4 linked regions of the Homo sapiens genome follow. The protein of the gene in region 2 purifies or fractionates together with the protein of the main gene of each other region. This does not show direct contact. Each region holds a gene or a part of one and is shown on either strand. Other genes may lie near its edges. The genes, in order: TMT1B, IRGC, RPS6KA2 and RAP1GDS1.

Region 1 (7,323 bases), on a different chromosome or scaffold from region 2:
TTTTGTTAAAAGCTAAGACACAAAGACACACATTAGCCTAGGTCTACACAAGGTCAGGATCATCAAGACATCACTACAGGACAGGGATTTTTCAGCTACATAATAATCTTATGGTACCTCCATCATATATGTGCTCTGTCATTGAGCTAAATGTGTTATGCAGCACATGGCTGTACAGTTGACCCTTGAACAACTCAGGACCTAGGGGACTGATACCCCTCACAATTGAAAATCTGTGTATCTGCAGGGTGGGGAACACCACACATTGGGGCCTGTCGTGGGGTGGGGTGGGGGGAAGGATAGCATTAGGAGATATACCTAATGTAAATGACCAGCTAATGGGTGCAGCACACCAACATGGTACATGTATACATATGTAACAAACCTGCACGTTGTGCACATGTACCCTAGAACTTAAAGTGTAATTAAAAAAAGAAAATTTAAAAAAATATATATGTGTGTCTGGCCAGGCATGGTGGCTCACGCCTGCAATCCCAGCACTTTCAGAGGCCGAGGAGGGTGGATCACGAGGTCAGGAGATCGAGACCATCCTCACTAACTCGGTGAAAACCCATCTCTACTAAAAATACAAAAAAAAATTAGCCGGGCGTGGTGGCGGGCGCCTGTAGTTCCAGCTACTCGGGAGGCTGAGACAGGAGAATGGCATGAACCCGGGAGGCAGAGCTTGCAGTGAGCAGAGATCATGCCACTGCACTCCAGCCTGGGTGACAGAGCAAGACTCCGTCTCAAAAAAAAGAAAAATTAGCTGGGCATGTTGGCATATACCTGTGGTGACCACTACTCAGGAGGCTAAGGTGGGAGGATTGCTTGAGCCTGAGAGGTTGAGGCTGCAGTGAGCTGTGATCGCACACTACACTCCAGCCTGAGTGACAGAGCAAGGCTATCTCAAAAATAAAAAATAAAATGAAAATTTCTAGAAAAGGAAATACAGAGGCTCTTAATTATAAGAAACAAAAATTCAACCTCACGCAGAAAAGAGTAAGTAAGCCGGGCACGGCAGCTCATACCTGTAATCCCAGCACTTTGGGAGGCCGAGGCTGGTGGATCACCTGAGGTCAGGAGTTCGAGACCAGCCTGGCCAACATGGTAAAACCCTGTCTCTACTAAAAATACAAAAATTAGCCAAGTGTGGTGGCATGCGCCTGTAATCCCAGCTACTCGGGAGGCTGAGGAGGGAGAATCGCTTGAATCCGGGAGTCGGAGGTTGCAGCAAGCCGAGATAGTGCCACTGCACTTCAGCCTGGGCGACAGAGTGAGACTCTGTCTCAGGAAAAAAAAAAAAAAAAAAGGAAAAGAAAAAGAAAAGAGCAAATAAAAAGCACAGGATAATACTACTTTGCCTCTTTCTGTGTCCATGGAGCAGGCCCAGGAGCAATTACTCCCCAGTGATAATCACATCCAGCATTCAGATCTTGGTTTTTAAATACCATCCTCCTCACAAAAGACCAGTGCTTCTTTGAGAAATAACTAAGTTCGGGGCTGGAGCAGGGGAAATACAAGATGAGCCTGGAACATCTTCTTGTAGCAGAAAGTAAGAAAATGCTCAAAGAGTGATGGAGTTGTGTCAAAAGGAGACAGGAGCCAGCTTGCAGGTGCTCCCCCAGCCAAATCTAGGGCAATTTGAACATCAAAATACACACCCAGGTATTCACCCAAGAGAAATAAAAGCATACGTCCACACAAACCCATGTACACAAACAGTTCATAGTAGCTTTATTTCTAACAGTCAGAAATTGGAAACAACCCAAACGTTTATCAACAAGTGAATGGATAAAAATATATGTGGTATATCCATACAATGGAATACTACTCAGAAATGGAAATGAACTGCGGATGCATGTACAACATGGATGACTCTCCAAATAAACATGCTGAATGAAATAAGCCAGATGCTGAAATCCCATACATTATAGGATTCCATTTACACAAAATTCCAGAAAATGCAAACTATTTGGGAGGCCAAGGTAGGCGGATCACCCGAGGTCAGGAGTTTGAGACCAGCCTGGTCAATATGGTGAAACACCGTCTCTACTAAAAATACAAAAATTAGCCGGGCATGGTGGTGCATGCTTGTAATCCCAGCTACTCAGGAGGCTGAGGCAGGAGAATCACTTGAACCTGGGAGGTGGAGGTTGCAATGAGCCAAGATCAAACAACTGCACTCCAGCCTGGGCCACAGAGTGAGACTCTGCCTGAGAAGAGAAGAGAAGAGAAATTAATCTATACTGACAGAGAGCAGATCAGCGGTTACCTGAAGATGGGGATGAAAGAGGGGCGAATGGATTACAAAGAAACACAAGGAAACTGATATAGTTTGGATGTTTGTCCCCTCCAAATCTCATGTTGAAATGTAATCCTCAATGTCAGAGGTGGGGCCTGGTGGGATGTGTTTGGCTCCTGAGGTCCCAACCCCTCATCAGTGGCTCAGTGCCAACCCCTTGGTGATGAGTGAGTTCTCGCTCTGGCAGTTCACGCAAGGTCTCTCTTGCTCCCTCTCTTGCCATGTGATACACTGCTCCCCTTCGTCTTCCACCATGATTGTAAGCTCCCTGAGACCCTCACCAGAGGCCAAGCAGATACTGGTGCCATGCTTCCTGTGCAGTCTGCAGAACTATGAACCAATTAAACTTTTTTTCTTTATAAATCAACCAGCCTTAGGTATTTCTTAACAGCAATGCAAAAGCCTAACACATAGACATGTTCATTATCTCGACTGTGGTAATGGTTTCCCAGGTATATACTGTGTCAAAAATAATCTATATACTGTAAATATGTAAACCTTCTTATATATATTATACCTCAAAGAAACTGTAAATAAATAAATAGGGTATTAGGTTACAAATCAGTGAATAAAATAGGAATCTATGCATCAATAATAATATGAACACATAAAAGACACATAAAACCAAATATTGCTGGTGGACGTGTAAATGGGTACAATCACTTTGGAAACCCATTTGCTATTATCTACTAAATCCAATACATTGTTAAGAAGGGGGGGAAGCAAGGTATACAAGAGTGTGTACAATATACTACTATTTGTAAAAGAAAAGGGAATATGTATATGTATATATGTACATGGATCTAAACACGTGGTGTGTGTGTTCCCTGCTCGTTCACAGGTCATCTCTGGAAGGATTCACAAGAAATTGGCAATATGGCATTTAGTGCCTCCAGAGAGGAGATCTGAGTGGTTGGGTCACAGGAGTAGAAGAGAGAATTTTCCCTGTAATCTCTTTAGTATCTTTTTAATTTTGTACTAAGTGAATGTACTGCCTCTTCCAAAAAAAGTTGTTTAATAATGTTTTGTAAAAAGAATTCTTCTCAGCCAGGCGCAGTGGCTCCCAACTGTAATCCCAGCACTTTGGGAAGTCGAGGTGGGTGGATCACCTGAGCCCAGGAGTTCAAGACCAACCTGGGCAACAGGGTGAAACCCTGTCTCTACAAATTACAGAAAAAAAAAAATTGCTGGGCATGGTGGTATGCACTTGTAGTCCCAGAAAATCAGGAGGCTGGTGTAAGAGGATCACTTGAGCCTAGGGACATTGAGGTTGCAGTGAGCCCAGACTGCTGCCACTGCACCCCAGCCTGGGCAGCAGAGACCCTGTCTCAAAAAAAGGAAAGAAGGAAAGAAGGGAGGAAGGGAGGGAGGGAGGGAAGGATCTCTAAAAAGTGGCTATTCTCTGACCTCACTTCCCCCTATTTGTCCAACTTACCCCATTCCCCACAGAACTAAACTTCTCACCCTTTCCAGGAGAGGGCATGCTGTCTCTGTCCTGTACACCTACTTTTTCCTCTGCCAAGAGCACCCTTCCCTTCCTATGGCCCCTCTGAAGTGCCTGACCTGAGGACGAAATGAGGCCAGGATATGTCCCATGAGTCAACTCTGTCCCCAGCATTCACCACTACCAACCCACCCCCAACGCCCTGCCAGCCCCCGACACTCCCCCGCCATGAGTCTGTCATCTGAAACATATCCCCTTACCCCTTCCCACTCCCTCTGAGATGACTCAGCAGCCCCTGCCCCCCTTCAGCTGGGCACAGTGCCCCAGAACTCAGGAACATGGGTACCACCTGTCCCTCCGCCCACATAAAAGTCATTGAAGAGCTTGTGGGGCTGTGGGACCTGCGCCCTCTGGAGGAATTCCATACACCCACTCAACTCTGGCAAATAGGAAATTGTCAAGTAGGAGACAAGGAGCAAAGTCCTATCACAGCGGGAGGGGACGCCAGCGCCTGCAGAGGCTGAGCAGGGAAAAAGCCAGTGCCCCAGCGGAAGCACAGCTCAGAGCTGGTCTGCCATGGACATCCTGGTCCCACTCCTGCAGCTGCTGGTGCTGCTTCTTACCCTGCCCCTGCACCTCATGGCTCTGCTGGGCTGCTGGCAGCCCCTGTGCAAAAGCTACTTCCCCTACCTGATGGCCGTGCTGACTCCCAAGAGCAACCGCAAGATGGAGAGCAAGAAACGGGAGCTCTTCAGCCAGATAAAGGGGCTTACAGGAGCCTCCGGGAAAGTGGCCCTACTGGAGCTGGGCTGCGGAACCGGAGCCAACTTTCAGTTCTACCCACCGGGCTGCAGGGTCACCTGCCTAGACCCAAATCCCCACTTTGAGAAGTTCCTGACAAAGAGCATGGCTGAGAACAGGCACCTCCAATATGAGCGGTTTGTGGTGGCTCCTGGAGAGGACATGAGACAGCTGGCTGATGGCTCCATGGATGTGGTGGTCTGCACTCTGGTGCTGTGCTCTGTGCAGAGCCCAAGGAAGGTCCTGCAGGAGGTCCGGAGAGTACTGAGACCGGTAAGCAGGGTGGGAAGGGGATGGGTGTGGGGCAGGCAAACGCAGCATCAGCCGCCCCAGGGTTCGGCCCCCAGAATGGGGCGTCTGAGGTAGTAAGTAGCACATTAGACACCCCATCCACCTCTACCTGCTGGTGAATAGGAGACATGACCAGTGCCATGACGGGGCACAATTGGGTGCTGTGGAAGCAACAGGAGGATCACCTACCACCATGGGACAGGGAGGGGAGTGGGGAGGACACCTAAGGAACTGAGGTTTAAATCGAGATCTGTGCTTGGGAGGCTGAAGCAGAAGGATGACTTGAGCCCAGGAGTTCAAGACCAGCCAAGGCAACATAGTGAGATGCCGTCTCTACAAAAAAAAAAAAAAAAAAAAATACAAAAGCTAGCCAGGCGTGGTGGCACATGCCTATAGTCCTAGCTACTCAGGAAGCTGAGGTGGGAGGATCACTTGAGCCCGAGTTCAAAGTTACAGTGAACTATGATCGCACCACTGCACTCCAGCCTGGGCCACAGAGTGAGACCCTGTATCAAAAAAAATAAATAAATAAATAAAAAGAGAGAGAGAGAGAGAGATCTGAGGGATTAAGCAGAGTGTGGACGGGGTGGGGAAAATAAAAGAGTGTTCTAGGTAAAGATAGTAGGGGAAGTAGAGTAGAATCCATCAGACTGTGGAGAGAACGTTCAGAATAGTTTCCAGGTTTCTAGCATGAGCAACTGAGGGGAGAGCTGATGAAAAGTGCCATTTGCTGAGATGGAAGAAAGCTGTTTTGGACTTACTAGGTTTGAGATCACCTAGGGAGAGTATAGTGAGGCGAGGAGCTTGAGGAACCCCAGCTTCAGTCAAGAGTTGGGCCTGAGGTTTCCCTGGGATGTTCACAGCGATGTCCAGGAAGCAGCTTGTGCATGCATCTGGGTTTTGTGAGAGAGGTTGTGCGTGTATCTCAGAATACAATAAGCCCAGCTGGGCGAGGTGGCTCACGCCTGTAATCCAGCACTTTGGGAGGCAAGGCAGGTGGATCTCTTGAGGCCAGGAGTTTGAAACCAGACTGGCCAACATGGTGAAACCCTGTCTCTACTGAAAAATACAAAAAGTAGCCGGGCGTGGTGGCTCATGCCTGTAATCCCAGCTACTTGGGAGGCTGAGGCAGGAGAATCGCTTGAACCTGAGAGGTGGAGGTTGCAGTGCGCCGAGATCACGCCATTGCACTCCAGCCTGAGCAACAGACTGAGACTCTGTCTCAAAAAATAATAATAATAATAATAATACAATGAGCCCTCCACTCCTGTTTCTCAGTTTCCCCTTCTGCATGCCCTCGGTTATTCTGGTCAGGCTTTAAAGATCTCCCACCAGCCACTCCTTTCAGTTATGAGGTTCTTCACATGCACTTTGAAGGCGGTAGCAGGGGATGCAGAAAAGGTCAGGGGCACGACAGTTTGCTCCATGAACTCTCAGACCAGCAGCTCCCATTTCACCAAGAAGTTTGACTGTCTTGATCAGCGCGATAGGGAGCAGGGTCAGAATGGAGCCAAGTGACACTAACTCTCTCATCCCTCCCAGGGAGGTGTGCTCTTTTTCTGGGAGCATGTGGCAGAACCATATGGAAGCTGGGCCTTCATGTGGCAGCAAGTTTTCGAGCCCACCTGGAAACACATTGGGGATGGCTGCTGCCTCACCAGAGAGACCTGGAAGGATCTTGAGAACGCCCAGTTCTCCGAAATCCAAATGGAACGACAGCCCCCTCCCTTGAAGTGGCTACCTGTTGGGCCCCACATCATGGGAAAGGCTGTCAAATAATCTTTCCCAAGCTCCAAGGCACTCATTTGCTCCTTCCCCAGCCTCCAATTAGAACAAGCCACCCACCAGCCTATCTATCTTCCACTGAGAGGGACCTAGCAGAATGAGAGAAGACATTCATGTACCACCTACTAGTCCCTCTCTCCCCAACCTCTGCCAGGGCAATCTCTAACTTCAATCCCGCCTTCGACAGTGAAAAAGCTCTACTTCTACGCTGACCCAGGGAGGAAACACTAGGACCCTGTTGTATCCTCAACTGCAAGTTTCTGGACTAGTCTCCCAACGTTTGCCTCCCAATGTTGTCCCTTTCCTTCGTTCCCATGGTAAAGCTCCTCTCGCTTTCCTCCTGAGGCTACACCCATGCGTCTCTAGGAACTGGTCACAAAAGTCATGGTGCCTGCATCCCTGCCAAGCCCCCCTGACCCTCTCTCCCCACTACCACCTTCTTCCTGAGCTGGGGGCACCAGGGAGAATCAGAGATGCTGGGGATGCCAGAGCAAGACTCAAAGAGGCAGAGGTTTTGTTCTCAAATATTTTTTAATAAATAGACGAAACCACGAAACCACTAGACTGATGGCAGCAAACTAAGGTCAGATGAGAGGGGAAACTAGAGAAGGAGCAGCCTGAGTCAGTGACACAACCTCCTCCCCGACCCTCTAGGTTAAGGCACTTCCGGGGAGGCAGGTCCTTGGGGTCCTGTTACACA
Region 2 (7,465 bases):
TGTTGTTGTTTGTTTTTTGAGATGGAGTCTTGCTCTGTCACTCAGGATGGAGTACAGTGGCATGATCTCAGCTCACTGCAACATCCGCCTCCCAGGTTCAAGCAGTTCTTCTGCCTCAGCCTGCCAAGTATCTGCAATTACAGGTGCACATCGCCGCGCCCAGCTAATTTTTGTATTTTTAGTAGAGACGAGATTTTGTCATTTTGGCCAGGCTGGTTTCAAATTCCTGACCTCAAGTGATCCACCCGCCTCAGCCTCCCAAAGCGCTGGGTTACAGGCATGAGTCATCATGCCCGGCCTTTTTGTTTTTTTGAGACAGGGTCTGGCTCTGTTGCCCAGGCTGGAGTACGGTGTTGTAGTCATTGCTCACTGTAACCTTGAACTCTTGGAATCAAACAATTTTCCCTCATCAGCCTCCCAAGTAGCCAGAACTACAGGCAAGTGTCACCACACTCAGCTAACTTTAAACATTTTTTGTAGAGATGGGGTCTCACGATATTGCCCAAGCTGGTCTCAAACTCTTGGCCTCAAGGGATCCTCCCAACTCGGCCTCTCAAAGTGCTGGGATTACAGGTGTGAGTCACCATGCCTGGCCCCTATCTCAGCTTTGGACACGCCTTCTTCACTGAGCTTAATCATTTCTAGCTTTTGATTTAAAGTGAGAGACACGTGACTCTTCCTTTTACTTGGATACTTGGAGGCCATTTTAGAGTCATTAATTGGCCTAATTTCATTATAGTTGTGTCTCACAGAAGAGGGAGGTGCAAGGAGAAGGAGAGAGACAGGAAAATGGCCAGTCAGTGGAGCAGTCAGAACACATACAATGTTTATCAATTAAGTTTGTTGTTACCTGTGGGCACAGTTTATGGTGCCCCGAAATGATTACAATGCTAACATCAAAGATCACCATACCAGAGATAATGATGATGAAAAAGTTTGACATGTTGTGAGAATTTCCAAAATGTGACACAGAGACATGAAATGAGCACGTGCTGTTGGAAAAATGGCACCAACGGGCTTGCTGGACACAGGGTTGCCACGAACTTTCAATTTGTAAAAACCATAGTATCAGGCCAGGCGGGGTGGCTCATGCCTGTAATCCCAGCACTTTGGGAGGCCAAGGCGGGAAGATCACTTGAGGCCAGGAGTTCAAGACCAGCCTGGCCAAGATAGCAATACCCCATCTCTATTAAAAATACCAAAACAAGCCGGGCATGGTGGCGCATGCCTGTAGTCCCAGCTACTCGGGAGGCTGAGGTAGGAGAAGCCCTTGAACCTGGGAGGTGGAGGTTGCAGCGAGCCAAGATCATACCACGCACTCCAGCCTGGGCAACAAGAGCAAAACTCCGTCTCAATAAATAAATGAATAAATAAATAAATAAAACAAGAGTTGGGCATGGTGGCGCGTGCTTGTGGTCCCAGCTACTTGGGAGGCAAAGGTAGTAGAGATTGCTTGAGCCCAGGAGGTGGAGGTTGCAGTGAGCAGAGATCACGCCACTGCACTCCAGCCTGGGTGGCAGAACAAGACCCTCTTCTCCACCACATCCCCGCCCCCCCGCAAAAAATACCACATAGTATCTGTGAAGGACAATAAAGCTGCATGCAATAAAATGAGGTGTGCCTGAAATTGAGTTTATTATTGAACGAATGAAAGTTCTCTCTCAACTCAGGTTCTTTGCAGAGGCTGGTCCCTTAGCCTGGGATGCAACTCCCTAATGTGCCATCTGGCTCACTCCTACTCATCCTTTGGATCTCAGGTCAGGTGCCCCCTCCTCCAGGAAGCCCTCCCTGACTCCCAGGCTGAGTCGGGCTTCCTCCTTTGTGCTCCCACAGCCCTCTGGGGTCCCCCATCCCAGTGCTGCCCCCTCTGTCATCATTATCTTGGGATGGATCTGACTCCACCACTGGACTCTGAGTCCTGTGGGGGCAGAGCCTGGCTGTCTTGTCCATTGCTGCGTTTCCAGCATGCAGATAGGCAGGGTGCAACCCCTCTCTCTCTGGCTGGTGCTCTCAGGAGCTGCTAGGGGCATCCCTGGGAACATGCCAGTCTGCATCGGTGCATGTGTGCAGGTGGCAGTGGCTCTCTTTCTTGGTCCACAATCATCCTGGGCTGCAATAATCTCCATTTTCTCGGGCCTGGAGCCCCTGAAGCAGTGCCTGGGTTTGATGCATCTCTGGAGCCCTAGCTGCTGCAGCAGAATGAATGAGGTTCCTGAATGGAGTCAGTGGGTTTCGGGGTTTCTGTATATGTTGTCAGTGTGTAACTGTGTCTCTTAAAGTCTGCACATCTGTGTCCCGGAATGTGTGTGTTTGCGAGGCTTTGGTAAGTGTGTGTTTGTCTGAGTCTTGCTTTCCTTCAGTGACTCTGTTGTTTTGTTTCGTTTAGAGACAGAATCTTGCTCAGTCACCCAGGCTGGAGTGCAGTAGCATGATCACGGCTCACTGCAGCCTTGAACTCCTGGGCTCAAGCAATCCTCCCACCTCAGCCTCCTGAGTAGCTGGGACTACAGATGTGCACCATCATACCTGGCTCATTTTTTTTTTTTTTTTAAGAGATAGGGTCTTGGCCAGGCACGGTGGCTCACGCCTGTAATCCCAGCACTTTGGGAGTCCGAGGTGGGCGGATCACGAGGTCAGGAGATCGAGACCATCCTGGCTAACACGGTGAAACCCCGTCTCTACTAAAAAATACAAAAAAATTTAGCCAGGCGCGGTGGCAGGCGCCTGTAGTCCCAGCTACTCGGGAGGCTGAGGCAGGAGAATGGCAGGAACCCGGGAGGCGGAGCTTGCAGTGAGCCGAGATTGCACCACTGCACTCCAGCGTGGGAGACAGAGCGAGACTCCGTCTCAAAAAAAAAAAAAAAAAAAAGAGATAGGGTCTTGCTATGTTGCCCAGGCTGGTCTCAACCTCCTGGGCTCAAGCAAACCTCCTACCTCGGCCTCCCAAATTGCTGAGATTACAGGCGTGAGTGAGCCGCCATGCCCAGCCACGAAGTAACTCTGTATTTGAGGCTCTTTCTGTGTCTTTCCCTTCTCTCTTGGGCCAGGGGTGCGTGTCCATGCATTTTGGGAAGGAGTCCTTGCTGTCTGCTGGTCTGTGTGCTCGGTGTCCGGGGAAGTCTGAGAACCATGTTGTTCACTCTCTTCAGCTCTGTGTGTTTGTGTCAGTCAGTGAGAGCATGAGTGAGTCGTGTGTCTTTTGCCCTGCACCTCCCTTTCACCTGTGGCTTAAGAACTCTGTACTATGCGGCCAACAGCCCACTCTTCCCCAGCTCTCAGGGTGGCTCTGAGCTAGTCTATTCCCCTTCTGGGCCTCTCTCTCCTTAGTTGTTCTCAGAGGCTCCTTTCCAGAACTGGCCTGCAGATGGTCAGGAAAATCCTCTGAGTAGCGTTATTGTAAATTCCCTACAAGAGGAGAATGGAGAAGGCCCTGTGGAGCCTGGCCTGGGCAGAGAGGAAGCCCGGAGGGGAGACAGGACAGAGACACTTATAAAGGACAAGAAGGGGCCGGGTGTAGTGGCTACACCTGTAATCTTAGCGCTTTGGGAGGCGGCATAACCTGAGGTCAGGAGGTTTGGGAGGCGAGGCAGGCGGATAACCTGAGGTCAGGAGTTCAAGACCAGCCTAGGCAACATGGTGAAACCCCACCTCTACTAAAAAAAAAAAAAAAAAAAAAAAATTAGCCAAGCCTGGTGGTGCATGCTAGTAGTCCCAGCTACTCAGGAGGCTGAAGCAGGAGAATCACTTGAACCCAGGAGGCGGAGGTTGCAGTGAGCCAAGATTGTGTCACTGCACTCCAGCCTGGGTGACAGAGCAAGACACTGTTTCAAAAAAAGAAAAAAAAGAAATCAATGACTAAATTATTGGGCTTACAAGATAGCAGATCAGCCTCCCGAGTAGCTGGGACTACATGCATGCACCACATCTGGCTAATTTTTGTATTTTTAGTAGAGATGGAGTTTCACCACATTGCCCAGGCTGATCTCAAACTCCTGGCCTCAAGTGATGCACTCGCCTCGGCCTCCCAAAGTGCTGGCATTACAGGCGTGAGCCACTGTGCCCACCAGCAATGACCGAATTTGTATCATCAACTTTCACACTTCTCTGGGGAACTGACAGTCCCCTGGGTGGAGGGTGGAGTGGTAGCAGGGCCAAGCCCTTGGAAACCAATCTGTGAATCTGAGACTTTGTCCTTGGGGGGTGATGGAGACCATGGAGGATTTTGAACAGGTCTTGGTGTTAGAAAGATCTCTCTGGAGTCTTCAGGGGAACTGGAGGGCCCAGTGTGAGTGGGTGGTGACCCCATGAGCAGCTGGGGCTTGGGGTCCCTGCTCCACCTCCGGGCCCCACCCCCTGACATCACTGTCGCATTATTGCACCAGGTCTGGCTGACCAATAAGCTGCTGCTTGCTATGATAATGGGTCCTAGCAACGGTGTCTGACCTTGGCTAAGAGGGAAGGAGATCCTATCAGTGGGGAGAGTGTGAGGGGAGAGGGAGAGCCTGCAGGGCAGGTGAGTCCCCCAGGGCTCTCTCGCTGGGCCCCTGTGCGTGGGCGGAGCAGGAGCTTATGGTCTAATCCGGACCCCCTCAGCCCAAATTCCAACCACTGACTTGTCTGCCCCTTGCTGCCAGGACCTGTTCCAGGTTCCTACTCTTCCCACCGCAGACCATACTAGGGAGAGGGCACACCCAGGATAGGAGGCTCAGATCTGGAGGCAACAATGTCTTTTTTTTTTCCTTTTTTTTTTTCTGAGACGGAGTCTCGCTCTGTCGCCCAGGCTGGAGTGCAGTGGTGCAATCTTGGCTCACTGCAACCTCCGCCTCCTGGGTTCAAGAGCTGGGACTACAGGCATGCGCCACAACACCTGGCTAATTTTTGTATTTTTAGTGGAGATGGAGTTTCACCATGTTGGCCAGGCTGGTCTCGAACTCCTGACCTCAAGTGATCCACCCACCTCGGCCTCCCAAAGTGCTAGGATTACAGGCGTGAGCCACCATGCCCAGCCGGGAACAATGTCTTAAGGACATATTTCTGTGGGGGGTGGAGTGGGGTAGCAGAGGATGGGGTGAGTGGTAGGAGGTGAAGAGACGGGGTGCAGGGGGCAAGGAGACAATGCAGGAGGCAGGGACATGCAGCTGAAGGGAGAGTAGCTCTCTAGGTGGGTGAAGGAGCCTGGGGACCTGGGTTGGGGTCCTGGCTATGCCTCTGGATGAGGAGACCTCATTTGTCTTGTCTGAGCCTCAGTCCTTCTCCCTGTCAAATGGGGACAGTGATCCCAGACATGAGCAGCTCTCCCAGGGCACCCTGAAGACCCTTAGTGAGTAAATGTATTTTAGAGATGATGGGCCAGAGGAGGGTGAGTGGGAAGAGGGAGGACCAGGGAAGCTCCTGGTGAGGAGGAGGGATCTGAGGGGGGACCATCACGACAGGAGCTCTGGGCGGTGGGAGGGGAACTGAACCCCGGGAGGCAAGGGCTGCCATGGCAGGGGTGGGGTTTCATGGAAATGACTCCTGGTGTCCAGGTGGTCCCCATGTCTGGCTTCCCGAACCCAAGGGCGTCTGAACCCAAAGTCAGCCTAGGGCTAGCTGAACGGGGTTTGTGGGCATCACAGCAGCCCTGCGAGGTGGGGAGGAGTATCCCCCACGGGGCAGCTGAGGCTCAGACAGGGCGAGGACTTGCTCAAAGTCACACAGCTAAGAATATTACTAATGATAAGAATAATGACGATGATGGTGATGCCAATGACACGAGGCACCTGCCCTGAGCCAGGCGCCGTTTTATGGGCTGCTTTATGTCATAACTCATTCAAGTCACAGAGATCCTAGGAGGTGGTTTGCCAGGATTGTAGGTATCATTCTCAGTGTTCAGATGAGGAGAGTGAGGAGAGAGTTAAGTAACTTGCCTCACATCACTCAGTAAGTATGTGGTGGAGCCAGGATTTGATCCCAGGCAGTCTGGCTCCGGGTCTGGGTCCCCTCCACCCTACCCTCCAATCCCAGCCACCGCAGGAGTGCAGCTGTTTCCTCTGAATGGGCCTGTACCACCCTTTCCTATGCAGCCCTGGCTATGTAATTTGCCCTGGCTATATAATTTGCAAGGCCCAGTACGAAATGAAAATATGGGGCCCCTGGTTCAAATATTATAAAGAATTTCAGGCCAGGCATAGTGGCTCATGCCCTTAATCCCAGCGCTCTGGGAAGCTGAGGCAGGAGGACCTTGATCTCGGAAGTTCAAGACCAGCTGGGACAACATAGTGAGACTCCCATCTCTACAAAAAATTTAAAAAGTAGCTGGGCATGGTGGCATGCGCCTGTGGTCCCAGCTGTTCAGGAGGCTGAGGTGGGAGGATTGCTAGAGCCAAGGAGATCAAGGCTGCAATGAGCCATGATCGTAGCACTGTGCTCCAGCCTCGATGACAGAGAGACCCTGTCTCAAACAAACAAACAAACAAACAAACAATTTCAGCTAGTGTCAGCAGAGCATTAAACCAAGCACTGGGCCATTCTAAGCACAGAACCCTCCAGGGCACACATACACCCAGAAAACTGACCTGTGCCTAGGTTACCCTGGAGACTCCAATAGTGCTCCAAGAGGCTGCTTGGTGGTCATGCCCATTACCCAGAGAGGTGCTTCATTTTGCCCCTGGTCACACAGCAAGTTAGTGGCAGAAAAGGGATGTGAACCTGGGCCTGCCAGACCCCAAAGCCCTCTAACTTGTGCCAAAAATGTGTCCCCAATTCTTGAAGGAAAAAGAGAGCTGTGGGCTTCCAGGGCGACTCCCTTCACATCCGTGGTATCTGTCTCTCCCTGCCCCATGCCAAGGCCCAGGAGGTGTGAATGGCTCCCTTCTCCTCTGCAGGCGCTGAGGATCACGCATCCTGTGACTCTCCCCTGTCCCCCGCCACCCTCTGAACCACTGGCCACCATGGCTACTTCAAAGTTGCCCGTGGTGCCTGGGGAGGAGGAAAACACCATCCTTATGGCCAAGGAAAGGCTGGAGGCCCTGCGCACAGCCTTTGAGTCGGGTGACCTCCCCCAGGCCGCCTCTCACCTCCAGGAGCTGCTGGCCTCCACGGAAAGCATCCGCCTGGAGGTGGGCGTCACGGGCGAGTCGGGCGCGGGCAAGTCCTCCCTCATCAATGCCCTGCGTGGCCTGGAGGCCGAGGACCCTGGCGCGGCTCTCACGGGCGTCATGGAGACCACGATGCAACCGTCGCCCTATCCACACCCACAGTTCCCTGACGTGACCCTCTGGGACCTGCCAGGAGCCGGCTCTCCAGGCTGCCCGGCTGACAAGTACCTAAAGCAGGTAGACTTCAGCCGCTATGACTTCTTCCTGCTGGTCTCCCCCCGCCGCTGCGGGGCCGTCGAGACCCGCCTGGCCGCTGAGATCCTGTGCCAGGGCAAGAAGTTCTACTTTGTGCGCACCAAGGTGGACGAGGACCTGGCGGCCACGCGCAC
Region 3 (7,680 bases), on a different chromosome or scaffold from region 2:
TTGATTTAGGTCTTTTCGAGGCATTTACACCTTAGCTGATACTGGTGCTGCCCTGAGGTGCCACCTGTCTGGGCTCCGTTTGCCGCGCAGCCTCTCTCTGGTCTGTCTCTGCTCCGCTGTGTCTATGACTGCTCTGTGTGTTCGCATCTATCTCTTGGGTTCCACTGTCTCAAAGAGAAAAAGGGCTCACTGAGGCAGGGCCCTCCCTTCTCGCTGTTTGGGAGTCATGACTCCAGCCGTGCTCCGCTGACACCATGGAAGGCACCAGAGTGCCCCAGGCAGAGGGACGAAAAAAAATCTGTGTTACCAGGAAAGTTATTTGATCAGCCTCTCTGTAGATTCTGGCCCTATGGTTTATAAATGGGTTTCAAAAGAAAGTGGTATGAAGGAACATAGTATTTAAAAACCAATAAAATCCAAAGCTGTCCTCACAGCGGGCTGGCGGGGGAGGTGTTGCAGGTGAAGCCCACCTTCTGTGAGCCCTGTGCCTTCCTACCCAGGTTGGATGGGGGATGAGGGCTCCAGCGGGGAGGGAGGAAGCCAACCATGATGGTTTCCACAGCTTGAAACCCAATGTGGTTTTTCTTCCTAAATGTAAGCCAGTCAATAAGGGTCAAGTACAACTGGCCTGTGGGTTTCCACCTGCCTCTCCTGACTACTCAGAAACCAGGCCCTCTGGTTTCAAATGTAAATTCCATTTCCTGGTACTTCACCATTAGAGCTTTATTTCTGTCATTTTGAAGACTTTTACGCATTAAGACTTTCTTTTTAAATTTTCGATATGCTCAGAGATTTTAAACTGTTAAACTGAGGGCACAGGTGTCATTCTGACATGGCTTGGTTGGCACCCAGATGTGAATGAGACCCAAGTGTCCTGTGGGTGAGGGCCAGGGGCCAGCCAGAGACCAGAGGCAAACTTGATCCCTTCTGACTTTTGCCGAGGGCCCAAGAAGCCCTTCCCTGACAGCTCCAGGCCCCTTGCTGACACCTGCTCCGAACGTGCCCCCACCTGAACTGTCCACTACAGTTTACCTTCTAGGGTCTCAGGACTTTAAGACCATCTTCCTGAGCAAGGACTAATTCCTACATTCAAGAAACTTCAAAGTCATAAACATTTCAAGTACACGGGGATCCACAGCCCAGGAAAAGGATTCCTTTCTGTACACTCAGGGACTACACTAAGGGAAGCTTGACTAAACCCATTTGTATCACAGCCACAGGAAGTAGTTCACAGGGGCACACACTGAAGCCCACCTCCCTCCCTCGTACTGGCTGGACACTGTCTCTGGAGCATCCAGCAGGATGCCTGTGATGGGCAGAGCCTTCGAATGCTGATACTCCGGAAAAGCACGACTTCCTGCTTTCGCAGATGGCCAGCACCAGGTGACCCTGGTGATCCTGGTGAAGTTTTGCATCAGGTGAACCTAGTGAATTCACCTCCCATGGCAAAACTTTAGTCCTAATGAAGACCGAATGTTTCAATTTATTTTAAAGATATATAGTTTCACTTGAAGTGCAATTTAGCGTTTTATTGAAAATATGTGGGAGTTTTAGAAGCTTGAAACTTTCAGCAGCCTGTAGGACTGTTTGGAGACGAACAGACATTTGTGGTACTTGACTAATTAGAAGCTCTTGGATGTCACTCAAGCCACTCCTGTGGGGTGCCCCGAGAATGTGGCATCTTCCCATATGCAGAGAGCACACCAGCCTTACCCACAAGGTGCCTGTGTAGCAGGGAGAGATGGGAAACCTTGTCACAGCTGCCTGACAGTGCCCTGTTATTCCTCAGCCTGGGACTCCCGCCTCCTCTTGTCTGTCCAGGAAACTTATTCCCTCATCTTCTTACCCTCAGGGGTTCAGAGCAAAGGCCATCTCCTCCTTGACTTCGCCAATTAGAATTGGCTTCTCATTCATCTCTTACGCATTTCTTTCACTTTACATAAAAACGGCATGAGCTTTGTCTGTTCACTCACCTTCTCTTCCATAAGACTGTGAACTTCTTGGGATGTTGTAATCATTTTGTGTCACAAATGACCACCACAGTGCCAGATGTTAGTGCTCGATAATCACTTGTGGAATTGCATTGACCACACATCAGCTAATCTGGTACTCATAGAAGCAGCAGTCACCACGGAATTCAGTCTCAAACTTACTGTGCTTGAGTCAGAGGAAATGTGAGATACTCAGAGGTCTACCAAGCTCTTTATCTTCTCTTCAGTCCTCTCCCATTCCATCATCTGGGCAAGAGCCTTTATCAAGTTCACTTTCTTTTCTGGTATTTGGTAAGGATAATTTGGATTTCGGTTACAGTGGGTCTTGATATTATACCTACCCTAGATTTAGTGGTTTTGGAGGATTTCATTACATAATCACATGAAGTAGTGTTCCATGATCACTAGAGATTTTGGTATACGTGTATTTTACCAGGAGAAAAACAAAGGCAAACAGATTTATTGTTCTAGCAATGAATTCCAGTGAAATCTGAATGATTTTCCCTCCCAAGTTCAACAGAACAGTTTTGTTGCCTTCAAATTTGGGGAACTAATGAATGTCCCATGAAATATTTCCTTTCCAATTTTGTCAGATCAGGTCAAAATACTATTGTTGGTACAACACAAGCCTTGACTTAGGCCTGCCTGCCTTGGGGCTTTTGTCCTGAACAGGATGCCCATGAGTTGGTATAGGTGGCATTCAGCACTCCTGTCTCCGGCCAGTATTACTGGCTCCCCTTCCGAGGGAAGCATGGTCGGGTTGGTCCTCCCTCATTCCCGGAGTCTGTGTCCAGTTGGAGGTCCATCTACCTCTTCCCGTGCTGGGTACAGAGTGTCTTTGTGTTTGCCTAGAGCCAGGATGCCTGAGGGTCCCAGCAGGGATACAGGGCACTAAGAGGCTGGTTCTGAGAGCACAGATTACTACCCTCCCAGCAGAACCTTAAAGGAAGCAGGCAAAGCAGTTTTCATGGGCACTTAACTGGCACACCATCTTGAAAAGGAGCAAAAAGTGGTGTTTGGTGTCCTTGTGGGGTCCTGCACTTCTGTTTTTAAAGAATAGTCATTATAGATCCTTTAATACATAATATGAAAATCAATTGCACTATTTAAATTCACAAAGCACTCCCACATCCGTGATCTTGCATAAGCCTCTTGGTATCCAGTAAGGGAGGTGAGACAGGTTTCACTCGTATTTTCCTCTTAGAGATGAGTCGTGGGAACAACGTGCAACGGCACCCAAGTTCACCAAGCAAGGAAGGGGCAGCGCCAGAGTCGTGGTGCTAAACTCCCGGCTTCCACTCCGGAGCAGCACCGCTCAACGCGGGTCTCCAGGAAACCCAGAGAGCCTATCTGACCTCACCTCAGCCCGGATGCAGCATGACTTTAAAGCTCTTATTTAAGGACATTCTGACCTCTCTACCCACCTTAGCCAAAATAGACTACACAAGTATTAACGCAACATCTGACTAGTCCAGGGAGCAAAACAACGCGAGGATTTTGCAGTTCGCACTGCAAAAGAGCAAGCAAGACTTGTCAACTCACCACCGCACTCGTTTCTGCTCTTTGCAGGTGGTGATGGTGCTATGTCAATGGGCTCGGTTTCTCCCTGTTTTTAAATACAAACTCAACACGTGCACAAGAGGAAAACAGAGCAGGCTGCACGGGGTCGTGAGCCCGCATTCTCGGCCCTGCTGCAGCCCTTGGTGAGCATTTCTAGGAAAAAAAAGAAAAAAGTGTTTCCCTTTAAGGCGGATCCCGAGCGGCGCTGCCGCCAGCAGCGGGTCTGAGGGCCTTGCCCTAGACCCAGGTCACCCCGCCCGGGTATTCCCAGCGCGGGCCCTGATAAGCCATCTGTGTAGACGTTTCCTAGAGCGGGACCGGCTGCGGAGGGCGGATGCGTCTTTGTTCTGCAGCCGCGGGAGGGAGGCGCCCCGAGGGCTGCCTGAGCCCCCGCCCTCGGGCGCCTTTGTCCGCTCCGGCGGAGGGAAGGCGCCGGTTCCGCGGAGGGCGGCTCCTGGCCGAGCTGCAGGGCCCGCTGGCAGGCGGCGGTCCCTCGCTCGCTGTGCCGCTGAGGTTTTGGCTGCGTTTGCTGATCAACAATTAAAGTTTGGTTCGGCAGAGAAAAACATGATGACAAAGTGTGCATAGGGATGTTTTAAGGAAGGAAAACATAATGACGGCCCCAAGCTGGAAGAAAGAGCAGCCGGGCCGAAGTTGCGTGACAGGAACGCCCGCGACTGCGCGGCTCCGGAGCAGCTGCACAACTCGCCCGGGCCGGGAGCTGTCCCGGGCCGAGGCTCATTAGGTATGCGGCGGCTGCGGGCACTGATTGGCGGGCAGTGCTGTGGGCGGGGCCGTGGGCGGAACCGCGTGGGGGCGGGGCTGCACGGAGCTGGTTCTTGTAGGAAGGAGTAGAAAGAGGAGGAGGGATGGGCACCTGGAACCACAGGGCGGCGCTGATGATTGGAGGTATCGGCAGAGGCGGGGCTCTCCCGGGCGGGGCGGTGGGCTCTCATTGGCAGTGCTGGTGGTGGGTGGGAACGGGAGGGGTGGTGAGCGCTGATTGGCCGTAGTGGCGGGGCGGGGCGGAGGAGGAGGAGGTGTGCGTGCCGGGGCGCGGAGCGGCGGGCGCTGATTGGTGGTAGTGGTGGTGGGCGTGGTGTAGGCGTGGCGCGTGGCCGGCGCTGGTACTCGCAGGGGAGGCGGAGAAGGAGGCGGAGGGAGCGATTGTGGCCCCGGCCGCGGTGGCCGGCGCGGCCTGCCCTTTGTGACCGCAGCTCGCGCCCCACGCCCCGCGCCCATGGCCGCCGTGCCGGGCTCCCTGGCCACGCGTGCCCGCCCGCGGACCTGAGCCCCGCGCCTGGGATGCCGGGGATGCGCGTCCCCCGGCCCTGCGGCTGCTCCGGGCTGGGCGCGGGGCGATGGACCTGAGCATGAAGAAGTTCGCCGTGCGCAGGTTCTTCTCTGTGTACCTGCGCAGGAAGTCGCGCTCCAAGAGCTCCAGCCTGAGCCGGCTCGAGGTAATGCGGCCGCCCTCGGGGCGCGCAGGTGCCGGGCACTGAGCGGGCCGTGGTCGCCCGAGCCCGCCTCGCCACCCCTGGGTGGACCCCGAGACCCGTCAGGGAGTTCAAGTTACTGGAAAGCTGGTCCGGTTCCGAAAATCGAACCAAACGGCTCCAAACGTTATCGCTGGGACTCCGTAGTAATTGGGCGGTCCGTGGGTCCTCGCGGGGGCAACTCCACCCCCACTGCATTTCCAGCTGGTTTCTCCGCCGCTGGCTGCACGGGGTGTGGGATGGTCCCCTGTGGGCCACAGGGAGCCCCGGGTGAGGAGGGGCTTTCTCTGCAGCTAGACCGCCGAGTGGCGCGGAGCGCTCCGCGGGGGTCCCTCAAAGTCCCGAGTGGAGAAGCCCCCCAGCTCCGCCCTCCGAGGCGCTGATCAGGTGCTGTCTGCCGTGCCCGGCCGGCAGGTTCCACCTTATCTTGTAGCTCATTCGTGCACTTGAAGTCAGTGTAGAATTCACAGAACGGGGAAGAACAGGCAGCAGCACAATCTGCTTAGGCGTCTAAAACGGCGTTCAGGAGTAAAGAGCCTGATGCAATATCCTCGCAGCGCCGAGGCTGATACAGATTCGTCCTGAAAACCCAGAGTACTCCCAAAGCCCTGTCCTTTCTACCTGTCCCGCATCTTGGCATCTTAGAGTTTCCTTGTGGACGGTTCTCTCGTGGTGTGTTTTATTTCAACCATCAAATCTTATTCTCTTATTCCCAGTGTCCAAATCACATTGTTGAATCTATAGATGACAAAACAGTGAAACGTGTTTAAGTGAAAAAGACATGGTGATGGGGAGACTGAGGCTGGGACCCAAAGATTTCGCCTGACACTGTCCCGCCTTTGCCTCAAGGCTGGCACCTGTGGGGTTTTGGTTGGTTTGTTTCAGCTGGAACAATCTCAAATGTTTCATCTTGGTTTTCTTTGTCCCAGCTGCCATGATATTAGACACAGACATGGGTTCTGTAACCATTGAGAGACCTGAGGAATAGACAAAAAAGTAGAAGAGAATTACTTGTTTAAAAAGTTTCTCTTATGGCATCCCTAAATCAGAATTGGAAGTACTAGATAGGATCAGTATGGCCGGTTCCCGAGGGTAAAACACATCTTTCAAACAAAACTGTTAATCCAGTACTGGAGGAGGGCTTGCTTTTAAGTCTAATATTGAAAGAAATGAAGCACACCAGTGAGGCAAATCATTTTCCTGGGACACAGGCACTTAAAAAATCTGAAGTTGACAAGATCAGAAACTCAGAACAGTATTTATCTTTATCCGGATACATGTCTTTGTTTCCTGTTTCATCTCAATGCCAAGTTTATTAGACAACTCCTTGTCTCCTTCCATTTACTGTCTTTGCCAAGAAGAGGTACACGTGTGAGCACACTCCAGGCATTGTTTATGAAGAGCAGCACTAGACACTGGCTGACCAGTGGGAGTTCAGGAATCTGCCTGATTCTGGATACACACGCCTCTGGTGTCACAGGGTTCTGCAAGGAGGGCTGGGCTGCAGGCGTGCCTCCGGAAAGAATACAGTGGGAAACAAGCGGGGGGGGGGGTGGGGGGGTGGTGGGAATAGGAAACGAGGTTTCTTCCATGTAGAAATAAAATTTCTAGAAGTCATACATAAACCATCAGCGATGTAGGAGGTCAAATGGGCTGAAAATACATGTAGTCTAAGAGCAAGTAGTCAATTAGTGCTTCCTGTGTGCCAGATCCCGTACTAGGTGCTGGAGGTCTCACTAAGATGGTCAATAATGGCCGGGCGCAGTGGCTCATGCCTGTAATGCCAGCCCTTTGGGAGCCTAAGGCGGGCGGATTATGAGGTCAGGAGATCGAGACCATTCTGGCCAACATGGAGAAACCCCATCTCTACTAAATATACAAAAATTAGCTGGGCATGGTGGCGCGTGCCTGTAATCCCAGCTGCTCAGGAGGCTGAGGCAGGAGAATCGCTTGAACCAGGGAGTCAGAGGTTGCAGTGAGCCGAGATTGCGCCACTGCACTCCAGCCTGGCGAGAGAGCGAGACTTGTCTCAAAAAAAAAAAGGTCAATGCTAATACAATGCTCTCTTTTTTACAAATGCATTCCCCAGCTTTCTATTATTTGATACTTGTGAAAATCGGGGTAGCATATGTAACTTTCCTCATTCTATTGCTAAGGGGAAGAAACCCTGAGAGTTTGAGAGTCTTGTTAAAAGCTTTCCAAGGAATTCATTCTGCAAGTGTTTATGGAGGACCGGGTCTTGGGCTGGTCTTTTTCTGGATACTGTGTCCAAAAAGACACGAGACATAGAAGTCCTGGCCTCAGGGCACTTCCACCCAGTGATGAGTCTCACAAGCAGCTGACTTTGTGCCCCAGTCCAGTAAGTTCCTCTTCTGCGCCCTACCCATACTTGAGAAGGCTGCCTGTTCGTTTGTGTGTTCACAGCTGGTTATAGGCCAAGAAGCACTCATCAAAAAATGTAAAACTGAGCAGGGGAGGTCTGTCAATGGATTGAGGTTGAGAAATAGGACACAAAGTACTGAACACAGATGTGTATTTCCTCTGTGTGGATGAATGAGAAAGATAACTTGTTTTATAATAGGAAACATTTTAAAATTGTTTCTGTGAAATTTATATTTTGAAATATACAAAGA
Region 4 (7,021 bases), on a different chromosome or scaffold from region 2:
GAAACTCTGTCTCAAAAAAAATATATATATATATTCTCATGGCAATAATTTCCTACACAAGAGAGTGAAAGAAAAGTCCTATATAACTTTATGGCCATAGCTACTATTTTATGTATATGTCATATTTCAGATTCAACATACATTTAGTGTTTGTTGGATATCAACTGTGCAGTGTACTGTACTACAGTGTACTGGGAGGACAAAGATAAAAAGATATTCATGTTTCACATTTATAATCTTAGCAGGAACAATATGACACATACACAAATTATAATAGAAGTAAAAGTATAAGTTATATAAAAGACCTTTACATATATTATAGATTCAGAGAATGGAGAGAACGTTTTAGAGAAATGGTGTTATTTGAACCAAAGGTGGGTTAAACTTCTTAAAGGTAGAAATGAGACTGTTAATCAGAATGGAGTTGGTCTGGGGTTGGAAGAGAAATGACATAAATGAAGATAGATAGGAAACATTTTATGAATTTCCAGGATATGATTAAACAGCATTGTTTGGCTAGAGCAAAAGGTAAGGAAATAGTGGGTAACAGACATGAAAAAGTAGTACAGTAATAGCTAATGACCAGATAATGTAGGATCTAAAATGCCAAGCTGAAGAATTTTAATCTGACTTACCTATTGAGAGACCACTAAACATTTTTATGTAGTTAAGTGATGGATCACATCTGTGGTATAGGAAAATTTGTCAGTTGAGTGCAGGATCGATTAGATGAGAAACTACAGAACACTTCAGAAGATTGTTGTTGGAGTTTGGACGAAAATGTTTAATGGCTTGAACCAGGTTATGGCAACGGGAATAGAATATTGCAAATAAAGAATAGGATTTACTTGGCAACCCATTGAGTATGGAATTGAGAGTCACAGGTTTTAGCCTGGGTGATAATGAGGATACGAGAATCTCCTGATACATATTCAGTTAACAGGAAGAGGAAACTTAGATACTCAATTTTGGACCTATTGCATTAGACTTTTTGGTCTGTCCTTTAGTCTCTGCTCCTTGATAACAAGGACGTTGTCATATTAGGATTTGAATACATTTCTAACACTAGTGTCTGGCACATAGTAGCTACATAGAAAAATTGTGTTGACTGACTGAAACTAGATAAAAAATAGTTGACAAACATTTATTTTAACTTTCGAGAGTACAATTTGAATTAGAGATCTGGAAGTTATCCACAAATATCCTGAGGTGATATTTGAAGTTAGATCAGAGGACAAGAGTCAACAAAGAAAAAGAGGAAAATTGTTCATGGTAAGAATCTTGAGGAATGGGGTTCCTTAAGTTTTCCGTAGTTAGGGAAAAAGGAATGGTATGATTTCACACTGAAAAACACAGAAGTCAGAGTGAAAGACTAGAATTGGTATATGGTTGGTTTTAAGAAAGAGTGAATAGTTAATAAGGTCTGTTTTTTCAGAACAGTCAGGAGGGTGATAGGGACTGAGAACAGGCTCTAAGTGCTTTGGTTAGGATATTACCCAGTATATTTTTCTAAAAAGCCACTTTAAGAGGTTTAGTAGATATGGAGGTCAGTTGTAAAGGCTAAGTGAATAATAAGTGGAAACAGTTCACTAGGTATAGTCATGCTGTATTTCTCACCTTGTTTAAAGATCTGTGAGAAAACATAGATTTTTAAAAATATTTTTAACTCACTCTGCATGACAGATATTACATTTTAGAAAATATTTTAAAATTTTAAATGTATTTTAATTTACAAATTAAAAAAATTATTTTAATGTTACATTTTACATGGAAGGACATGTGCTGTTTTCATGTCTAAGGATAATTTTTAATTTCACCATAGTGCCTCACATTTCTCTGACATTTCATTTTTAATGTCTTTGTGACTTAGTATAGTACAATTTTTATTTTTATAATGTCTGTCATGCAGAGTGAGTCTAGAATGATTTTATAATTTTGCATGGCATTTTGCCTAAACAATACTCTTTACTGATGAATGGTTTTATCACTTTTACTCTTAGACTTTGTGAATTTGAGACTTCTTTAGATTATAGGTATGCTTCTAATTATATTTTTAATTCCTGGAGTTGTAGTTTTCTCTGTAGATAGGTATCAAACTTATAGTCATTTTATTTTGCCTGTATTTCCAAGTCCAGGAATGGTTTTCATAGCTAAATAATAAATACTAATTTTGCCTGATCTTTGCAAGTCTAGGCAGGGTGATAAAATATTTTTGAAAGCTGGTAATTACTAAAATTTATGATTTCAAAAAAGCATAGATGCTAGCTTGGTAAATTTAAAAATTTTTCTTATGTTGGCATTATATCTGTTTTGTATATGTCTTTTTTCATATGGGAGAAAGGTTGAATTCACTATCCTTGGTAGTCATATTCTGAAGTCTGTACTACTACTATTTGAAAAATTATAATAGCCTTAACTCTTTTTAAGAACCAAAATGATTTTGCTTTCATAGTGGAATCTTGGAATTTCTAGGTGACTTTGGGGAAATAGTGTGGATGCTCTCCAGAAATTCCTGATTGAACCTGAGATTGAACATAGCAATTCTGGAGTTATTGGTGGCACTAACAACAGCCATCAGAATTACCTAAATTTTAATATCCAGTCATGAACATCAGGAGGAATGAAGGAGGAAGATTCAGTCCTTTGGGAACCTGATGTAATTTTAGATAGCCAAATGTTTGGATAACTGATAAGGAAAAAGTTTAATTTAAAATACATGTTGATGTTGAGTTCAGTTTGCCAGTATTTTGTTGAGGATTTTTCTATTTATGTTTATTAAGGATATTAGCTTGTAGTTTCTTTTCTTGTAGTATCATTGTCTGGCTTTGGTATCAGGGTAATGCTGGCCTCATTAAATGAGTTTGGAAGTATTTCCCTTCATTGTTTGGAAAGAGTTTGAGGAGGATTGGTATTAGTTCCTTTTTTAAAATAATTTCAACTTTTAGTTTAGGTTCAGAGGGTACATGTGCATGTTTTTTACATGGGCATGTTATGTGACACTTTGGAGTATGAATAATCCCATCACCCAGGGGTTTGGAGTATGAATAATCCCATCACCCAGGTAGTGTGCATGGTACCCAGTGGGTAGTTTTTCAGCCCTTGCCTCCCTCCATTTGTCCCCCTCTAGTAGTCCCCAGTATCTGTTGTTCCCATCTTTATGTCCATATGTACACCCAGTGCTTAGCTTCCGCTTATAAATGAGAACATGTGGTATTTGGATTTCTTGTTTCTATGTTAATTTGCTTAGGATAGTGGCCTCCAGCTCCATCCATGTTGCTGCAAAGGACATGATTTCATTCTTTTTTGTGGGTGCATAGTATTCCATGGTATATATGTGTCACATTTTCTTTATCCAATCCACTATTGATAGGCACCTGGGTTGTTTTCATGTCTTTGTTATTGTGAATAGTGCTGCGATGAAGATCCAAGAGCATGTGCCTTTTTGGTAGCATGATTTATTTTTCTCTGGAAATATACCCAGTAATGGGATGGCTGGGTCAAATGGTAGTTCTGTTTTAAGTTCGTCGAGAAGTCTCCAAATTGCGTTCCACAGTGTCTGAACTAATTTATATTTCCACTAACAGTGTAAAAACATTCTCTTTTCTCCACAGCCTTACAGCATCTGTTTTTTGTTTGTTTGTTTTTACTTTTTAATAATAGCCATTCTGACTGGTGTGAAATGGTGTCTCATTGTGGTTTGATTTGCAGTCTCATCACATTAAGAGGATCATACGTCATGATCAAGTGGGATTTATCCCTGGGATGCAAGAATGGTTGAACATACACAAATCAATAAATGTGATACACCACGTTAACAGAATGAAGAACAAAAATCATACGATCATCTCAGTTGATGCAGAAAAAGCATTTGACAAAATTCAACATACTTTCATTTTTAAAACTCTCAACAAATTTGGTGTAGAATGAATATGCCTAAACATAGTAAAGGTCCTATATGACAAGCCCATAGCTAACATCATACTTAATGGTGAAAATCTGAAAAGTTTATCTCAGATTGAGAAAAAAAACAAGGATGCCCACTCTTGCCACTGCTATTTAAGATAGTACTAGAAGTCCTAGCAGAGCAAATAGACAAGAAAAAGAAATTAAAAAGCATTCAAATTGGAGAGTAAAATGATCTGTTTAAAGATAGCATGGTCTTATACATAGAAAGCCTTAAAGACTCCTTGAAAAAAAAGACAAAAACTATTAGTCCTAATAAATGAATTCAGTAAAGTTTCAGGATACAAAATCAGCATAGAAAAATCAGAAGCATTTCTATACACTAACAGCAAACTTTCTGAGGATGTAATCAAGAAAACAATCCTATTTACAGTAGCTGCAAAAATATAAAATATTTAGGAATAGATTTAACCAAGAAGGTGAAAGATCTCTATGCTGAAAACTGTAAGACATTGATGAAAGAATTTGAAAAATTAACAGATATCCCATATTCATAAATTGGAAGAATTAATATTGTTACAATGTTCATAGTACTGAAAGTGATCTACAGATTCAATGTAATCCCTATCAAAATTCCAGTGAAACTTTTCACAGAAATAGCAAAACAATTCTAAAATTTGTATGGAACCACAAAAGATCTGAATAGCCAGAATAATCTTGAGCAAGAAGAACAAGGCCAGGGGCATCACACTACATGCTTCAAGTCATGTTACAAAGCTGTAGTGATCAAAACAGTATGGTACTGGCATAAAAGCAGACACATAGATCAATGGAACAGAATAGAGAGGCCAGAAATAAACCCAAGAATTTACAGTCAATTGATCTTCAAAAAAAAAAAAAAAAAAAAAAGCCAAGGAAACACAATGGGGACAGGACAATCTCTTCAATAAACACTGTTGTTAAAACTAGATACCCACATACTGAAGAATGACATTGGATCCTTATTCATCCCATATACAAAAATCAGCTCAAAATGGGTCAGAGATTTAAACAAAAGATTTGAATTTGAAAAGCATAAGATGCGCGCAAGAAAATACTGGAGAGAAGCTCCATAAGATTGGTGTTGGCAATGATTTTTTGTTTATGGCACCAAAAGCACAGGCAACAAAAGCAAAAATAAACAAATGGGACTTCATCAAATTAATAAGTTTCTCTGTAGCAAAGGAAACAACAAAATGAAAAGGCAGCTTACATAATGAGGGGAAATATTTGCAAGCCGTATATCCGATTAGGGGTTAACACGTAAAAATAATCAGGAACTCATACAACTCAGTAGCTAAAATAAAATAAAAATACAGGTTGAGGATCCCTAATTCAAAATCTGAAATGCTTCAAAATCTGAAACTTTTTGAATGCTGACATGACACTCAAAGGAAATGCACATTGCAGCATTTGGATTTTTGGTTTCAGATTTTTGGATTAGGGATGTTAAACCAGTTAGTATCATGCATGTATTCCAAAATCTGAATAATTTCAAAATCTGAAACACTTCTGGTCTAAAGCATTTTGCATAAGGGATACTCAATCTGTATTTACCTAGATGTAAATAATAAATGAATATATTAGAATAGGTTATTGTCTCAGTCCATTTTGTGCTGCTATGACAGAATACTGCAGACTGGGTAATATATAAAGAACAGAAATTTATTCTATCAGAGTTCTGGAGTCTGGTAACTACAAGATCAAAGTGCCTGCAGGTTTGGTCTTTGGTTTCAAGATGAGGCCTAGTTGCTGTGTCCTCCAAAGAGGAGAAACCTTGTGCCCTCACACAACAGAAAAGCAAAAGAGAAAATCCACTCTGGTAAGCTCTTTTTATAATGCCATTAATCTATTTATGAGGGCAGAGCCATCATAACCTAAACACCTCCCATTACCTTCCAGTACTGTTGTGTTTAAGTTTCAACATGAGTTTTGGAGGGGACAAAAACATTCAAACCATATAGTTATAAAGACTATTTCAGTTATAAAAGCCTGTGATTCCTTGAAACTGAAGTTTGAAATATACTCCATATCATTGGTATCTTAAATATAACCTCTATATAACTTGTTTTTCTTTAGTGTTCAAATGGTAATGTATACTTGAGGTAGCAACTTAAGGGTTTGAACCAACTTTAGCTTTGTCTGAATAAATGACCTAAAAAAACATTTCTCAAGCTGGCTAAGATATGGATGCTGGATTCAAATTGCAGGTGAAATAATTCTCTCAGTGCTTCTATTTATATAGCTTTTGTAACTAGAAGCATTTCAGGAGTTAAAACCAAGGACTAGGTTAGTGATAAATGGAAGTGGTTAAATTGAGCTCTTAGCTATGATTGGCTGTACAGTTGACCGTTGAATAACATGGATTTGAACAGCGCAGTTCCACTTCCATGTGGATTTTTTTTTTTCAATAAAAGCTATACCAAGTGAGTTGCCTCTCCTGCCTCCCCTTTTACCTCCTCCACCTCTGCCACACCTGAGACAGCTAGATGAACCCCTCCTCTTCTCAGCCTACTCAAGAGTGACTATAATAAGGATGAAGACCTTTATGATGACCCACTTCCCATGTAATGAACAGTAAATACATTTTCTCTTCCTTCCATTTTCTTTTCTCTAGCTTACCTTATTGTAACAATATGGTATTTGATGCATATGGTATATGATGCATATAACATACATAATATGTGTTAATTGACTGTTTATGTTATTGGTAAGGCTTCTGGTCAGCATTAGGCTATTAAGGTTTTAGGGAGTTAAAAGTTATGTGTGGATTTTTGACTGAGTGAGAGGGGGATTGGTACCCCTAGTGCCTGCATTGTTCAAGGGTCAACAGTACTTGTTAATTCCAAAGTCCTTTTTGTTCACAAAATGACTTTAGGTACTTATTGGTACTGAAATATATTTATTAATATCTGGGCTACATCTTTGTATTTAGCAGATTAGTAGACATCTCTACTAATTAAACTCATTGAGTTCAAAATAAAACTCATTTTATAATTTTTAATAATGATAATTAGAGGGGTGCTGGTAAATGTTTAACTAAACGCCTTTCTCCAAAATAGCCCTGATTTGTGATGGC

The links.
Region 1: the proteins of IRGC (region 2) and TMT1B purify together in Homo sapiens (affinity purification with mass spectrometry; 2 studies listed by BioGRID and IntAct, with this or other methods). This does not show direct contact.
Region 3: the proteins of IRGC (region 2) and RPS6KA2 purify together in Homo sapiens (affinity purification with mass spectrometry; 2 studies listed by BioGRID and IntAct, with this or other methods). This does not show direct contact.
Region 4: the proteins of IRGC (region 2) and RAP1GDS1 purify together in Homo sapiens (affinity purification with mass spectrometry; 2 studies listed by BioGRID and IntAct, with this or other methods). This does not show direct contact.

The regions. Positions count from the first base shown.
Region 1 is NC_000012.12:55,677,433-55,684,755, forward strand, and holds TMT1B (thiol S-methyltransferase TMT1B precursor), read left to right. Parts: upstream 1-4,303; 5' UTR 4,304-4,322; coding exon 4,323-4,820; intron 4,821-6,380; coding exon 6,381-6,617; 3' UTR 6,618-7,179; downstream 7,180-7,323. UniProt on the Homo sapiens protein: Thiol S-methyltransferase that catalyzes the transfer of a methyl group from S-adenosyl-L-methionine to alkyl and phenolic thiol-containing acceptor substrates.
Region 2 is NC_000019.10:43,711,630-43,719,094, forward strand, and holds the start of IRGC (interferon-inducible GTPase 5), read left to right. Parts: upstream 1-4,446; 5' UTR 4,447-4,513; intron 4,514-5,247; exon of another isoform or gene 5,248-5,320; intron 5,321-6,750; exon of another isoform or gene 6,751-6,818; coding exon of another isoform or gene 6,819-6,929; coding exon 6,930-7,465. UniProt on the Homo sapiens protein: Required for sperm motility and therefore male fertility, via positive regulation of spermatozoa fibrous sheath formation.
Region 3 is NC_000006.12:166,624,252-166,631,931, reverse strand, and holds the start of RPS6KA2 (ribosomal protein S6 kinase alpha-2), read left to right. Parts: upstream 1-4,680; 5' UTR 4,681-4,912; coding exon 4,913-5,011; intron 5,012-7,680. UniProt on the Homo sapiens protein: Serine/threonine-protein kinase that acts downstream of ERK (MAPK1/ERK2 and MAPK3/ERK1) signaling and mediates mitogenic and stress-induced activation of transcription factors, regulates translation, and mediates cellular proliferation, survival, and differentiation.
Region 4 is NC_000004.12:98,264,384-98,271,404, forward strand, and holds part of RAP1GDS1 (rap1 GTPase-GDP dissociation stimulator 1), read left to right. Parts: intron 1-7,021. UniProt on the Homo sapiens protein: Acts as a GEF (guanine nucleotide exchange factor) for the Rho family of small GTP-binding proteins (G proteins) that stimulates the dissociation of GDP to enable subsequent binding of GTP.